Homo sapiens: one gene and its partner. The protein of the gene in region 1 binds, or shares a complex with, the protein of each later gene. Each region holds a gene or a part of one and is shown on either strand. Other genes may lie near its edges.

Region 1 (7,299 bases):
CCTCTCTGCTCCAGCCCTGCCCTGAGACCCTCTACCAACAAGGCACGCAGCTCTGTTGACGAACTCCACAGCAAGTTCAAGGAGGACGTGCACCCAGGGCCTTGGCATTCAGCAGGGACCTGCACTGAAGACCCCGTGGGGCCCCTTCTCCACCCGTGCCCAGATCCTGGGAGCACAGGAAGCATGGGGTCTGGGCCCCACCTCACCCACAAGCCACTGGGAGGAGAATGGACTGAGTGTGATTCGAATCCGAGGGCATGGGACGGCGCTCAGTGCCTGCGAAAGGAGAAGGTGCGGACGGCAGAGCGTGACCCATTTACATTTATAGGAGAAACAGTGGACCAGGGAGCGACACACTCAGCTTCCCTACTTCAGGCAACTGGCCGACTCCGACCAACAGAGAAATCGGGAACATCATCATACGGCTTTTCGGTCACCTCTGCGGACGCTCAGTCCCACTCCCCCTCCCCCTCAGCGTCGTCCTCGTGCGGCGCCTCCAGGTCGTTGAGGTGGAAGTTGGCCATCATGTCGCGCACAGCCAGCATCAGCCTGTTCAGGCCCTGGTTGCGGTTCAGACCCCCAGCCACTCCTTCCTCGGGCCTCTCCCCCTGCAGCAAGGGGACATGTCTGAGAAGGGGGCTGTCTGTGCTGGGACTAGGGGCCCGGGGCCCAAGCAGGAGGCACTGTGGAGCCCGAGGTGGCCCTTGCCCCAGCACCGGACCCTGAACCCTCCCCAGGTCCCTGTGAGGAGGAAGCTCTCAAAACCAAATGCCGTGTCTAGACCAAGCCAGGCACAGAGTGGGATCAAGCCGGCTGACTCACGGCCCTGCATCTGCTACCATCTGGGCAGGCCCCAGTTTCCCCGGCAGAATGGGCACCCCACTGGCACAATGCAGCCTTGGTCCTTCCCTGCTCCCTGTGCCGGCTGGCACAGTCCTGGTTCAAGGAGGCTCCAGGCATTCGCACTGGAATGGATATGCCCGCACCCACTGGGGAGGCAGGGGCTGGGACGAGCTCAACCTACCTCCATGGTATAGTTTGGCAACAGTGACCGGAAGAAGAGAGCAATGGTGTTTCCATGGCTGATAGGACTTAGCCTGAAAGAAAGTCAAGAAAAGTCAGAAACGACACTGAACTGAGACTCGTGGGACCCAACCCGGCTCACGGGGCTGCCTGCCAGCTGCCTCCCTCGCAGGGACACGGAGGGGCCGCCAGGGGGCAGAGCAGCAGCAGCTGAGCACAGGCCCTGGATTCCCCGGGTGGCCCGTGAGGCTTCCTCATCAGCTTAGGGTGGGGCTGTGGACAGCGGGAACAGGATGAGGGAGACCAACTCAGCTGAGGCAGGCGTGGCGTCCGGAGCGAGGCTCCCACAGCCATCCTCGGCCACTGCACAGGTGCCTTGCTTTTCAGAAAAGCTGCAGTTTCAACGTCTCCTTCAGCACCCACTCCTTACGCAAAGGCAGAAGCTTCCAGGGCCTGCGTTAAGCGGAGACCCTCACGGTGCGAAGGGCTACCGGCCCGGCTCTACAGGACGCTGAGCGGCCAGGCCTCAGGAGCTCTAGGGAGGGCGAAAGCCTGGGCTCCACAGCGGAGGGAGGCAGCAAAGAACCGCGATTCCTCAATGCTGCAACACCCTGCCGGCAGGGATAATCACGACGACCGCTGTGCGGGTGACGGGGCCTGGGTAAGGCAAGTACTTTCCAGCCCAGAAGGAAAAGGTAAAAAGCCTTTCAATGACCCGGATTCTGAAAGCCAGACACACCGGCCGCCTGGCAGTTGGCCCTCTTGCGCCGCAGCCCTGCTCTCCCGGTCTGGCCATGGGGCTTTTGTTCTCTCAATGTGCCGTGTGCTCTGCTCCTGGCACAGGGCCTCGGCACATCGTGACTCTGCTGGGGAACACAAGGACCCTCTCCCCTGAGCCTGGTGAGGGCACATTCATCCTCTCCGTCTCAGCACAGCCACCATCCTTCCTCCAAACACCTTACTGGAGGATTTTTTTTTTTTTTTTTTTTGAGATGGAGTCACTCTGTCACCCAGGCTGGAGTGCAGTGGCGTGATCTCAGCTCACGGCAACCCCCTCCTTCCGGGTTCAAGGGATTCTCCTGCCTCAGCCTCCTGAGTAGCTGGGACTACAGGCACAACCCACCACGCCCAATTTTTTTTTTTTTTTTTTTTTTTGAGACGGAGTCTTCCTCTGTCGCCAGGATGGAGTGCAGTGGCACGATCTCCACTCACTGCAACCTGTGCCTCCCGGGTTCAAACAATTTTCCTGCCTCAGCCTCCCAAGTAGCTGGGACTACAGGTGTGCGGCACCACGCCCAGCTAATTTTTTTGTATTTTAGTAGAGACGGGTTTTCAGCACGTTGGCCAGGCTGGTCTCAATCTCTTGACCTTGTGATTTGCCCACCTTGGCCTCTCAAACTGCTGGAATTACAGGCGTGAGTCACTGCACCCAGCTGGCTAAGTTTTGTATTTTTAGTTGAGACGGGGTTTGCCATGTTGGCCAGGCTGGTGCAGTTTTGATTTTATGTTTATTTCTACATTCTAAAATTAATATGTTTTCCCCACTTCACTGCACACCTGCTTCCACTGTGTCACTCGCACCTGCCACAGAGGCCGACACGCAAGCGCTTGTACATTCGGTGGAGATGGGAAAGAACGTGGCCTGCAAACGCAGAGCTGTGACCCCCAAATAACACTGTTCCTCTCCTCCTCTCCCTTCCTGTGAGGGGAAAGACCCACTTAGCCCTGAGCCCCATCTCTCAGCATCTGGGTCTGAAAGAGGCAGCCAGTCCCTGTGAGCCCCAAAGCCCTGACCTCAGAGCTGCAGGAGAGAGCTGGGAGCTGCGAGGTGGGAGCTGGGAGCTGGGAGCTGCGAGGTGGGAGCTGGGAGGTGGAAACTGGGAGGAGGGAGGCGGGAGCTGGGAGCTGGCAGGTGGGAGGCAGGAGCTGGGAGCTGGGAGGCGGGAGCCGGGAGGTGGGAGCTGGGAGGCGGGAGGTGGGAGCTGGGAGGAGGGAGGTGGGAGCTGGGAGGTGGGAGCTGGGAGGTGGGAGGTGGGAGCTGGGAGGTGGGAGCTGGGAGGAGGGAGGCGGGAGCTGGGAGGTGGGAACTGCGAGGAAAGAGGTGGGAACTGGAAGGTGGGAGGAGGGAGCTGGGAGGTGGGAGCTGGAAGGTGGGAGGTGGGAACTGCGAGGAAAGAGGTGGGAGCTGGCAGGTGGGAACTGGGAGGTGGGAACTGCGAGGAAGGAGGTGGGAACTGGAAGGTGGGAGGTGGGAGCTGGGAGGTGGAAACTGGAAGGAGGGAGGTGGGAGCTGGGAGCTGGAAGATGGGAGCTGGGAGGTGGGAACTGTGAGGAAAGAAGTGGGAACTAGAAGGTGGGAGGAGGAAGCTGGGAGGTGGGAACTGGGAGGAGGGAAGAGGGAGCTGGGAGGTGGGAGCTGGGAGGTGGGAACTGAGAGGAGGGAGGCGGGGTTGGAAGGTGGGAACTTGGAGGAGGGAGGCGGGAGCTGGAAGGTGGGAGCTGGGAGGAGGGAGGCAGGAGGTGGCAGGGGAGGTGAGAGGAGGGAGGCGGGAGCTGGGAGCTGGGAACTGGGAGGAGGGAGGAGACAGGGGCTGTAAGGTGGGAGGCGGGAGCTGGGAGGTAGGAGGTGGGAGCTGGGAACTGGGAGGAGGGAGGCGGTAGCTGGGAGGTGGGAGGCGGGAGCTGGGAGGTGGGAGCTAGGCGGCGGGAGGAGGGAGGTGGGAGCTGGGAACTGGGAGGAGGGAGGCAGGAGCTGGGAGGTGGGAGGCGGGAGCTGGGAGGTGGGAACTGGGAGCTGGGAGGTGGGAATTGGAAGGAGGGAGGAGGGAGGTGAGGTGGGAGGTGGGAGGAGGGAGTTGGGAGGTGGGAGCTGGGAGGTGGGAGGTGGGAACTGGGAGGAGGGAGGCGGGAGCTGGAAGGTGGGAGGCGGGAGCTGGAAGGTGGGAGGCGGGAGGTGGCAGGTGGGAGGTGAAAGGAGGGAGGTGGGAGGTGGGAGGAGGGAGCTGGGAGCTGGGAGGTGGGAACTAGGATGAGGGAGGCGGGAGCTGGGAGGTGGGAGCTGGGAGGTGGGAACTGGGAGGAGGGAGGCAGAAGCTGGGAGGTGGCAGCTGGGAGCTGGGAGATGGGAGGTAGGAACTGGGAGGAGGGAGGTGGGAGGTGGGAGGAGGGAGGTGGGAGCTGGGAGGTGGGAGGTGGGAGGAGGGAGGTGGGAGCCAGGAGCCGGGAGCTGCTAGGTGGGAGCTGGGAGCTGGAAGGTTGGAGCTGGGAGGTGGGAGCTGGGAGCTGGGAACTGGGAGGAGGGAGGTGGGAGCTGGGAGGTGGGAACTGGAAGGAGGGAGGTACCTCTCTGGCCTGACGTAGGAGTAGATTGTGTCCGAAGGAGGCAGAGGATCAAACCCCATCACAGACTGCGTGGTCACGTCCTTCAGAAAGGGACATAAAACGAAGATGCTACAGATGCTGCCAGGGGGCCTCTACCTCTCCCAGCAGAGTCCTTCTGTCGACTCCAGCATGGACTGGATGCATCTGCTGAGAGATAGCCACAGAGTCTGACAGAAACGGCTGTGCTTTTTGTACCAACGAGCTTTGGGTGAGGGTGGGACAGTCCTTCTGCCACCAGGACACTCACGGGAGTCGAGATGAACCTGCACGGCGTCTGCCCTGCACACCAGAGTGTGTGGTGGGGAAGGAAGGGGGTCACGTGCCGCTCAAGCCTGCCAACATCTTCACCACGTGTCAGAAGCTCCCACTTCAGCAAATGCAGGCTACAGGGACCCTGAGCTGCCCTCGGGTTGCACAGTGCCACGTGCTGCCACTCTACTGAGGAGAGTCAGAAGCTCACAGCCCCAGACAAAGCCAGCCATGCCGGTCATAAGGGCCCGCAGAGCAGCTGAAGTTAAACCAGGAGGCACTAAGCTGTCCCCAGTGGACGGTCCACGGTCCTGCGACCCTCTGACTTGCTGGTTTTCTCACTCGTTCTATCTTATCCCTTAACAACAGTACAAACTCCTTAGGTTTTGAGACAGAAACGGCACCTCCAGCACAGGAGGCGTCAGAGCAGGACTACACCCCACGACTACAGAGAATCCCCCAGCAGCCGCACCACGCGCTCACAAGACCACGGATGGAGCAGCTCACCACGGTGACGACTCAGCTTGTGCTCTGAGCCCCAAAGGATTTCTCTCTCAAAACAACAAGCATCCGAACCCGGGCTGCCAGGAAAGGAGGAGCCCTCTGCACTAGACCCTGCCCCTGCCGTGGCGGGGCTGGGCTGCTGAGGGAGCCCGCACCACGCACGCCTGCATGTGGACCGCCCGGAGCAGAAGGGACGTGCATGTGACCGGCTTACACAGAGCTCCCATTTCAGCCTTTCTCCCTTACCGGGGGCAGGGCAGCGACGGCTTCCTTGATCTCAGAGAGGATCACATGGCGGTGGATATTCCTGGGTGCACGCTGGTAGAGCACCTTCCGCCTAGGGCCGGGGAGAAACAAGGCACAGCAGATAAAGCACAGCAAATGAAATGGTAACCGCCATGGAGCCTCGGCCCCCACCCCCACCCAGCACGAGGCATCTCGCTGCATCTCTGGTGGCTGCAAAAACTGTACACTTTACTCTCGAGCAGAGGCACCATGGCTGGTCCCTGGCCTGCGGCTGGGGAGCCTCTGGGGACCAATCCCAGCCACATGGCCAGTGACTCAGCCTCTTCATCCAAAGAACAAGAACGATGAGAGCCGTAGCCAGTGGCTTCTTGTGGGAAGTCACTGAGTTCATCTCCATGAAGGGACACCTGGGTGTGTCACCATCGTCACTGCTACGGCTACAGGCACAGGCACTGGTCCCTGCTGGAAATCGCTCTTGGAGAGCAGTACAGGGAACAAAATGCTCCTGTCCATGAGAATGTCCAGTCCAGTGGGGACAGCAGACACGCGGACGGGCCCATGACTGCCAGCGGCTGGGGGCACCAGCGCCTCTTGGGCACCCCCGGGCACACCTCATGTCCGCGGCACACAGACTTCACTGTGGAGATGCAAATGGGCACCACTCCCAGGCGGTCCTGAGCCTGGCCACACCACTGCACAGAGCCACGGTGCTGATGCACAGAACTAGCACAGGGCCAAGGGCGCAGACAAACGAGACAAGAACAGCAAGGGGATGCCTGTCAGTTGCAGCATATTAGGGCATGAGCCTCCGAAGTGTTCACACACAGGACAGGAGACTCTTTCTCGTCTCTGCCAGATTTCTTTACTCCCAAGATGCTGCTGTGAGAGACTCGTCATCATCTCACAGCTCATGTGGAAACACTGCAAGACCCGAAGGCACCACTCCAGCCCGAGGCACCCGGGAACAGCAGCTCGGTACCCTGCGCTGATCACCACAGCTGCCTCCCAGGAAGCCTCTGGGACACGCCAGGGGCTGTGCGCTGTCTTGTAGGCTCCACACAGGCCCCACAGCAAGGGAGGCCAAGCTGCTCACAGCCCTTCTCGCCTCCCGAATGCGAGGCCCCCGTGTCTGGGATGAGGGTCCCTGAGGAGGGGGCGTGGCAGGGCTTGTGTCAACCCCTAGCTCACCGGTTCTCACAGGCTTCCACGGCTGGGTCCCCGGCGTCCACTGCTTGCAGAACCTCGTGGACGTTCTCCTCCAGCCAGCTCATGGTGGCGGGCTCTTTCCAGAGAAAGTGTGACCTCCCAAGGTACAGGTTCACCAGCTGGCTCAGGGCAGGGGGCTGGCTGGGGGAGAGCAAGGGCTCTGAGCAGAACCCCTCTTCAGACCACAGCCTGCCTCGAGGCTGGCAGAGCCCCATGGATGGGCAGACGGGGGGTCCAGGGAGTGCCCTGTGGCCTGGAGTGAAAGGAGGCCCCTGGGCTGCTGGCCTGAGGGCGTGGGGCTGGGGCACACAGGTATGTGCCGTGAGCCTGTTGGGCAGGTTATGTTCTTTAGGAAGCAGGACTGACGTCACAGAAATGTGAAAATGCACCCAGGGCGGGTCCATCTGCGTGCACACAGGGCGAGCCCTGGAGGGCCAGGGGATGACCCCAAGGCGTGCACTTTCTCCTGTGTTTGCTCCCTCTTTGTTTATTTTGTTTTTTGAGACGGGGTCTCACCATCACCCAGGCTGGAGTGCAGCAGCACAAACACAGCTCACTGTACCTTTGACCTCCCAGGCACAAGCCGGCCTCCCAAAAAGCTGAGATTACAGGCATGTGCCGCCACGCCTGGCACCCTCTTTATATGAGCCTCGTTTTTAAGCTGGAGGCTGCTCAGCTGTCCCACCTGGA
Region 2 (7,124 bases), on another chromosome or scaffold:
AATGAAATACATATTATTCATCTGCCTTAAAAAGTGCTACACAACAGGTAGCATTATTATTGTCATTATTATTAAGGACAGGCCCCAAAAGAACTATTTTGGGTTACTATTAAATAAATTAAACTTTAATAATCTGAGAATTTTGTGAAAGCCCTTGTGATATGGAAACACTTACCTAATTTGTAATCCAAAACAGACTCTAAATTGCTGGGGGGTAAAGCTCTTCTCTGTAAAGCCTCTAATGAAATAACTCAATGCCATAACAGATACATTGCCAAAGTAAGGAGCGGAGCAGGAAGGAAATGAACATGTATGGAGTTCTAATATGTGTCAGGTATTGTTTCAGGTGCCTTTCTTTTTTTTTTAGATGGAGTCTCGCTCTGTCGCCCAGGCTGGAGTGAAACAGTGCGAACTCAGCTGACTGCAATCTCTATCTCCCAGGTTCAAGTGGTTCTCCTGCCCCATCCTCCCAAGTAGCTGGAATTACAGGTGTGTGCCACCACGCCTGGCTAGTAGAGACAGGGTTTCACCATGTTGGCTGGGCTGGCCTTGAACTTCTGACCTCAAGTGATCCACCTGCCTCAGCCTCCCAAAGTGTTGGAATTACAGGCATGAGCCACCGCACCTGGTCTGTTTTAGGTGTTTTATATATCATTTCAATTAATCCAATAATTTCATGAAGGAGGTACTATCCACATTTTACATTTAAAGAAACTAAATTCCAAGAGGTTAAGTAACTTTTCCAGGTTATAAAATTACTTTCTGACAAAGCTATTAATTCAAAGTTAAGTATATGTGACTCGAAAGTCTCGTGTACCACATGAATTTTCAATCTATATGTTACATCAATAAAAGAATGGGTAGCATGCCCACCCATGTAAAAATCTGTTTTAATAGTAAAAACAAAACAGAAAAATAAAAAGACTTAGTAACATATTAATGTCAGTGAGTATTCCAAAAAAAAAAAAATACTGACTGGGTACAGAGGAATACGACTCACAAAAGTGAGCTCTGGAAGATAAGACTAGGAAAAAAAGGTGGGGCAGGGAGGAGAAAGAACACAGAAAGCCAAGAATGTTAGGCTATAGAATATGGATTTAGAAATCAGGAAACCATAAAAGGTGAGGTAACTAATGAAAATTATACTTTAAAAAAATTAATGTTGGGCCAGGCGCGGTGGCTCATGCCTGTAATCCCAGCACTTCAGGAGGCTGAGGCTGGCGGATCACCTGAGGTCACGCATTTGAGATCAGACTGGCCAACATGGTGAAACCCCATCTCTACTAAAAATAGAGAAATTAGCCGGGTCTGGTGGCACACGCCTGTAATCCCAGCTACTGAGGAGGCTGAGGCAAGAGAATCACTTGAACCTGGGAGGCAGAGGTTGCAGTGAGCCAAGACTGTGCCACTGCACTCCAGCCTGGGTGACAGAGCGAGACTCCTTCTCAAAAACGAACAAAAAAACAAACAAACAAAAACAAAAAAATTAACGTTGGTCTAATTTAGAATTGTTTTGATGCAGAGAAGTGAATTACAGTTAAGGAACTGTAAGGCTGAATGTGATAAAAGCTTGAACTCTAATAGTGACTGTGGAAACAGAAGATCTGGAGCAGAACAGGATGTGAAAGGTAATGGGGAGAAATCAATTAATAAATATTCACTTTATTCAACCCATTATCTGTCAACCACTCCCTTTACCTTCATTTTATCTGCACTTTATTCGTAACAGTGAAGGAAACCCCAATTAAAAACTTAATTGTTAGTGAGCAATCTCTTAAAATTTAGCTTCAAGCGTAACAAGTTTACCTTCATGGCAAAACTAGACGGCATCATATTCTTAGGCCACTCAAATTCTGTTGTATGAATTCGTATGCCAGATTCAAGTAAAAGTGTAGCTTTAAAGTCCGGTCTGTAGAAGAAAAAAGTCGAATTTTTCTTTAGGGTATATGCCAAAGCTAATTGCTAAACAGGCTTAAAATGTAGGTTAAAAAAAATCAGTAATCTCATACTTAATTGTCAAAGAGAAAATAAGCCTATAAAATGTTCTTACTTTTGAAGACGAATAAGGTATGTCTTATTATCCACATCATAAACATTGTTTACTCTCATTCCTAGCAAGCTGCAAAGATAAAGGAAACATGTAACATGTTACACTATTGTCTGAAACATAAAACTACACATAATTTAATAAAAGCTTCGAAAGAGCGGATCTCAGTCTCTAAGGATATGGAGTCAGCCGAGGAGCAGAGTCTGAAAGCCATTTGGAGATTCAGTTCAAAACTTAAGAGTAACGATTTAAAAACAGAAGTGGTCTATCAGCTCTAGGAACAACACACTATAGCTTGCGTCTTCCAAATGACCCAATTTTGGGGGAGAAATACAGTAAAATATAATCCAATTAATTTATTACAAGGGAGAAAAAAAAAAGATAAAAGAGGGCCCCGAAAATATGACAAAGCTCACAGGGCTGAATAATAGAATCCAGACTAGAATCCAGATCTCAGTCCAAATCTGCTCAATCCAGCTAAAACCGCGATGCTCTCTCTCTCTCTGGGGTGAGGGGAGGGAGGTGTTCAAGAAACCAAGCCCCCAGTCTGGAAACCTCTGAAGCAAACGACCACTCTGGCGTCTCGTGTTTTAACAAACGTTTCCTGCCCAACCCGGACAACCCAGGCCAACAATGCAAGAGCTTCGCGCTAGCGGGGCAAGCCAGAGAGCTGGGAGGACGCGGGGGATGGGGCACGAGGTGCCTGGGACCCCCAGGGGTATCCTAAGGGTCACGGGAAAGACACCACACGCCTGCCCACTCAGGCCTAGGCAGGTCCATAGACGCACTAGGAAATAAGGAAACATATCAAGCTGGTCTGTTTGCGCCATGGGACTCCGGCCTCTGCCTCCTGCACTCCCCACACGAGCCTCGTCACTTAGGGTACTGTACCTAGCATTCAGCTCCGCGAGTACGGCGCGGAGGTCAATGGTGCTAAAGCGGCTCTTCATGGCGAGGCCCGAGGGTCACTACCGCAAGTTCCTCTACTGCCCGGCCGGACTCGACGCCACTTCTCCTCCGCGCAGGCGCACTTGGCGGAGCTCTACGGCCGCGCAGAAGACCCAATATTCCTCGAGGCGAACGTATTTGTGTCGCTTTTCTGAAGATTTCGATTGTCAAGTTGCAGCTGACTCTCTTCATTGTACCAAAATTCAAATTCGAATAAAGATTCAAACTGTTCTCTTGAAACTGCATTCCTTCCTGGAACCCTTACGGACCAGTCTGGTTACCGTGCCCCATTGTGTCTTGGGCTCAAGTCAGCCTTCATAGTGACCCCTGCTGGTCGAAACAATTTTCGAGATGATTATCAGGAGTATTTCCCCACAGGGGGGCCGTAGGGCTCAGTGTAGAAGAGCAAGGACCCCTTTCTGCGCGCTTACTTTGACATAAGATTTTGAAATGTAACGAAACGGAACTGCTTCGGTCCTTCTAAGATTATCCTCAACGATCGAGGCGAACTCTCAAAACGGAGTTCCTATTTTGATGGGTCCTGCTCTCGGAAGGAGCATTCTGCAATTGATTACAGGATTCTCATCGAACCTCGGTCTTGGTACCCCTGAGACTCACCGCAGTACCTGGTGTACAATCGGTGCTCCATAAACACTTGGCAGCATGAATGTGCAAGTGTTTAGCTAGATAATGGTGAAATAAGATAAAAATAAAAACAAGAAGATTCCCAATGGGGGTGGGGTGGGAGGGGGGATTCACAGTGTAGTGAGGAAAATAGTCCTGTAAGAATGTAAATTCTGCATTTCTTTTGTCTTAGGATAGATGCATGGGAAGAAAGGCTACTTTATAAGGTGAGAACTCAAAAGAGGCAGGGTCTCACTATGTTGCCCAGGCTGGAGTGCAGTGGCTATTCACAGGCGCAATCCCACTACTGATCAGCACGGGAGTTTTGACCTGCTCCGTTTCCGACCTGGGCCGGTTCACCCCTCCTTAGGCAACCTGGTGGTCCCCCGCTCCCGGGAGGTCACCATATTGATGCCGAACTCAGTGCGGACACCCGATCGGCATAGCGCACTACAGCCCAGAACTCCTGAACTCAAGGGATCCTCCAGCCTCAGCCTCCCGAGTAGCTGGGACTACAGGCACGCGCCACCGCGCCCGGCGCTCGGCGTCGCTGCAAAAGAGCTGCTAGAGGCTTGCAGGCTACACATGGTAGCAACCAGAATTCCTACCACCAGAAGGCGACTCTAAACAGAAAGGGCGCCGCTGCTATTTCAGAACTGGTACCAGTAGATGCAAAAATGGCTATAGCACATACTGCACAGCATTACTGTCATACGGTACAGTAAACCATACAGAATGGCCCAAAATATGAAAGCATTGGGGAGAAGGTGGAGAACAGGGAACTTTTGTATGCTGTTGATGGGAATGTAAATTAGTAGAGCCATTGTGCAAAACAGTATAAAGGCTCCTCACAAAATTAAGAATAGAATTACCATGTGATCTAGCAACAACATCACTATCCTGAAGATATATGTTCATGTTCATTGCAGCATTATTCACAATAGCCAAGATATAGGGATAATCTACTTTTCATCAATGGATGAACGGATAATGAGTGCAAATATATATGTACACACACACACACACACACATACATACATACAGTGGAATATTATTCAGCTTTCAAAAAAGAAATAAATCTTGCTGTTTGCAACTGGCATGGATTTAACAACATGGATGAACCTGGAGGACATTATGCTAAGTGAAATAAGCCAGACATAAAAAGACAAATACTGCATGATCTCACTTATACGTGGAATCTAGAAGTTTCTCATAGAAACAGACAGCAGAAATGTGGTTTCCAGGACTTGGGATGTAGGGGAAATGGGAAGATACTGGTCAAAATGCACAAACTTTCGGTTGTAAGTAGAGTAAGTTATGGAGACTTAATGTACAACATGCTGATTATAGTTCATAGTAATGTATTGTATGCTTGAAATTTGCATGGGAACAGAAAACCAAATACCGTATGTTCTCACTTATAAATGGGAGCTGAATGATGAGAACACATGGACCCATGGAGGGGAACAGCACACACTGGCGCTTATCAGAGGGTGGAGAATGGGAGGAGGGAGAGGGTCAGCAAAAATAACTAATGGGTACTAGGTTTAATACCTGGGTGATGAAATAACCTGTAAAACAAACCCCATGACACAAATTTACCTATATAACAAACCTGCACATATACCCCATGAACTTAAAATAAAAGTTAAATTAAAATAAAAAACAGAAATTTGCTAAGAAAGTGGATATCAAATACACACATACAAAGTGTGAGGTTATGGATGTGTTAATTGGCTTGATTGTAGTAATCATCTCACAGTGTATACATACATCAAAACATCACATGGCTGGGCCGGGTTGCTCACACCTATAATTCCAACACCTTGGGAGGCCAAGGCTGGCAGATGGCCTGAGCCCAGAAGACCAGCCCGGACAACATAGTGAGGCCCCCTCACCAATCTCTACAAAAAAATAAAAAAATTAGCCAGGTGTGATGGCATGTACCTATGGTCCCAGCTACATGGGAGGCTGAGGCAGGAGGATCCCTTCAGCCCAGGAGGTCAAGGCATGGTGGCCATAATTGTGCCACCACACTCCAGCAGGAGCTTCAGAGTAACACCCTGTCTAATAAAAAAAAAAAAAAAAAAAAAAAAAAAAAATTGGCCGGCTGCAGTGGCTCACGCCTGTAATCCCAGCACTTTGGGAGGCCAAGGTGGGTGTATAACCTGAGGTTGGGAGTTCAAGATCAGCCTGGTCAACATGCTGAAACCCTGTCTCTACTAAAAATACAAAAATTAGCCGGGCGTGGTGGCAGGCATCTGTAATCCCAGCTACTTGGGAGGCTAAGGCAGGAGAATCACTTGAACCCAGGAGGTGGAGGTTGCAAAGAGCCGAGACTGTGCCATTGTACTCTAGCCTGGGCAACAAGAGGGAAACCCTGTCTCAAAAAATATATATATATATAATATTTATATATATAGATATATGTATAATATATTTATATAATATGTATAATATATTTATATAATATTTATATAATATGTATAATATATTTATATAATATATAACATATTTATATATATATACACACCTCAAATATATGCAAATTTTATTTGTTCCCATAATTCATTTTACACTACTATAACAGAACACCACAAACTAAGTAATTTATAAAGAACATAAATTTAATGCCTCACAGTCCTGGAGACTAGGAAGTCCAAGATCAAAGGACTGGCATCTTGAAAGGGCTTTCTTGGTGTTACATCCCATGGTGGAAGAGCAACGAGAGAATGAGAGAGACAAGAGGACCAAACTCATCCTTTTATAAGGAAACCATTCCCATTTCTTTTTTCAGTAGCCCGAAACTGAGCCCCAGGCACTGTCTTATATAAAATATTTTAGTCTCTTATAAGCTTAGCATTAACCATCACTATGTTTGGCCTCATCAATAGATGTCTGGAATCTAGAATGAGAGATGGGATTTTTCAGTCCTATGCTTAGAGAGTAAATCAGAGATAGAATACATTGTTGTGTACTGGGGAATCATATTTTCCCAGAAAGACATACAAATGGAACAAACAGAATAGTGGAATTCAATTGAAACCATGTAATACAAAAAATAGTTGTGGTTCTTCTGGGTAAAAATAATGCTAAATTTGTTATTTATAACCCCAAGGGTTAAAGAAAGTACTAATGAAAAAATTTTAGGGCAATGGATTAAATCTTAACATAAGGAAGAACTTTCCGGTAGTAAAGACCGTTCAAATATTATTTAGAGATATATTCAGGCACTAAAAACCATTAAGAATAACAAGAGAATGCCACGAAGTCAGAATAGTGGTTATTTCTAAGAGGAAAGGTACTTGGGTGCGGGTTTCTGGGATGCAGGCAAAGTTCTATTTCTAGATGCCAATTATATAGTTTCTCACTTTATAAATTCCTTAAACTTACATTATGTGTATGTCTTATGCACAGTTTCATATGTACGACACAGCTCACAAAGTTTAAAAAGCAAAACAGCCAGGCACAGTGGCTTGCGCCTGTAATCCCAGCCCTTTAGGAG

The links. The genes of interacting proteins can lie anywhere in the genome.
Region 2: TCF25 (region 1) and NEMF share a complex: the UniProt entries of both Homo sapiens proteins name them as parts of the ribosome quality control complex.

Annotation. Positions count from the first base shown.
Region 1 is NC_000016.10:89,904,389-89,911,687, reverse strand, and holds the end of TCF25 (ribosome quality control complex subunit TCF25), read right to left. Parts: intron 6,751-7,299; coding exon 6,592-6,750; intron 5,495-6,591; coding exon 5,404-5,494; intron 4,446-5,403; coding exon 4,366-4,445; intron 1,098-4,365; coding exon 1,025-1,097; intron 609-1,024; coding exon 450-608; 3' UTR 309-449; downstream 1-308. UniProt on the Homo sapiens protein: Component of the ribosome quality control complex (RQC), a ribosome-associated complex that mediates ubiquitination and extraction of incompletely synthesized nascent chains for proteasomal degradation.
Region 2 is NC_000014.9:49,849,757-49,856,880, forward strand, and holds the start of NEMF (ribosome quality control complex subunit NEMF), read right to left. Parts: upstream 3,033-7,124; 5' UTR 2,998-3,032; coding exon 2,939-2,997; intron 2,120-2,938; coding exon 2,051-2,119; intron 1,910-2,050; coding exon 1,807-1,909; intron 1-1,806. UniProt on the Homo sapiens protein: Key component of the ribosome quality control complex (RQC), a ribosome-associated complex that mediates the extraction of incompletely synthesized nascent chains from stalled ribosomes as well as their ubiquitin-mediated proteasomal degradation.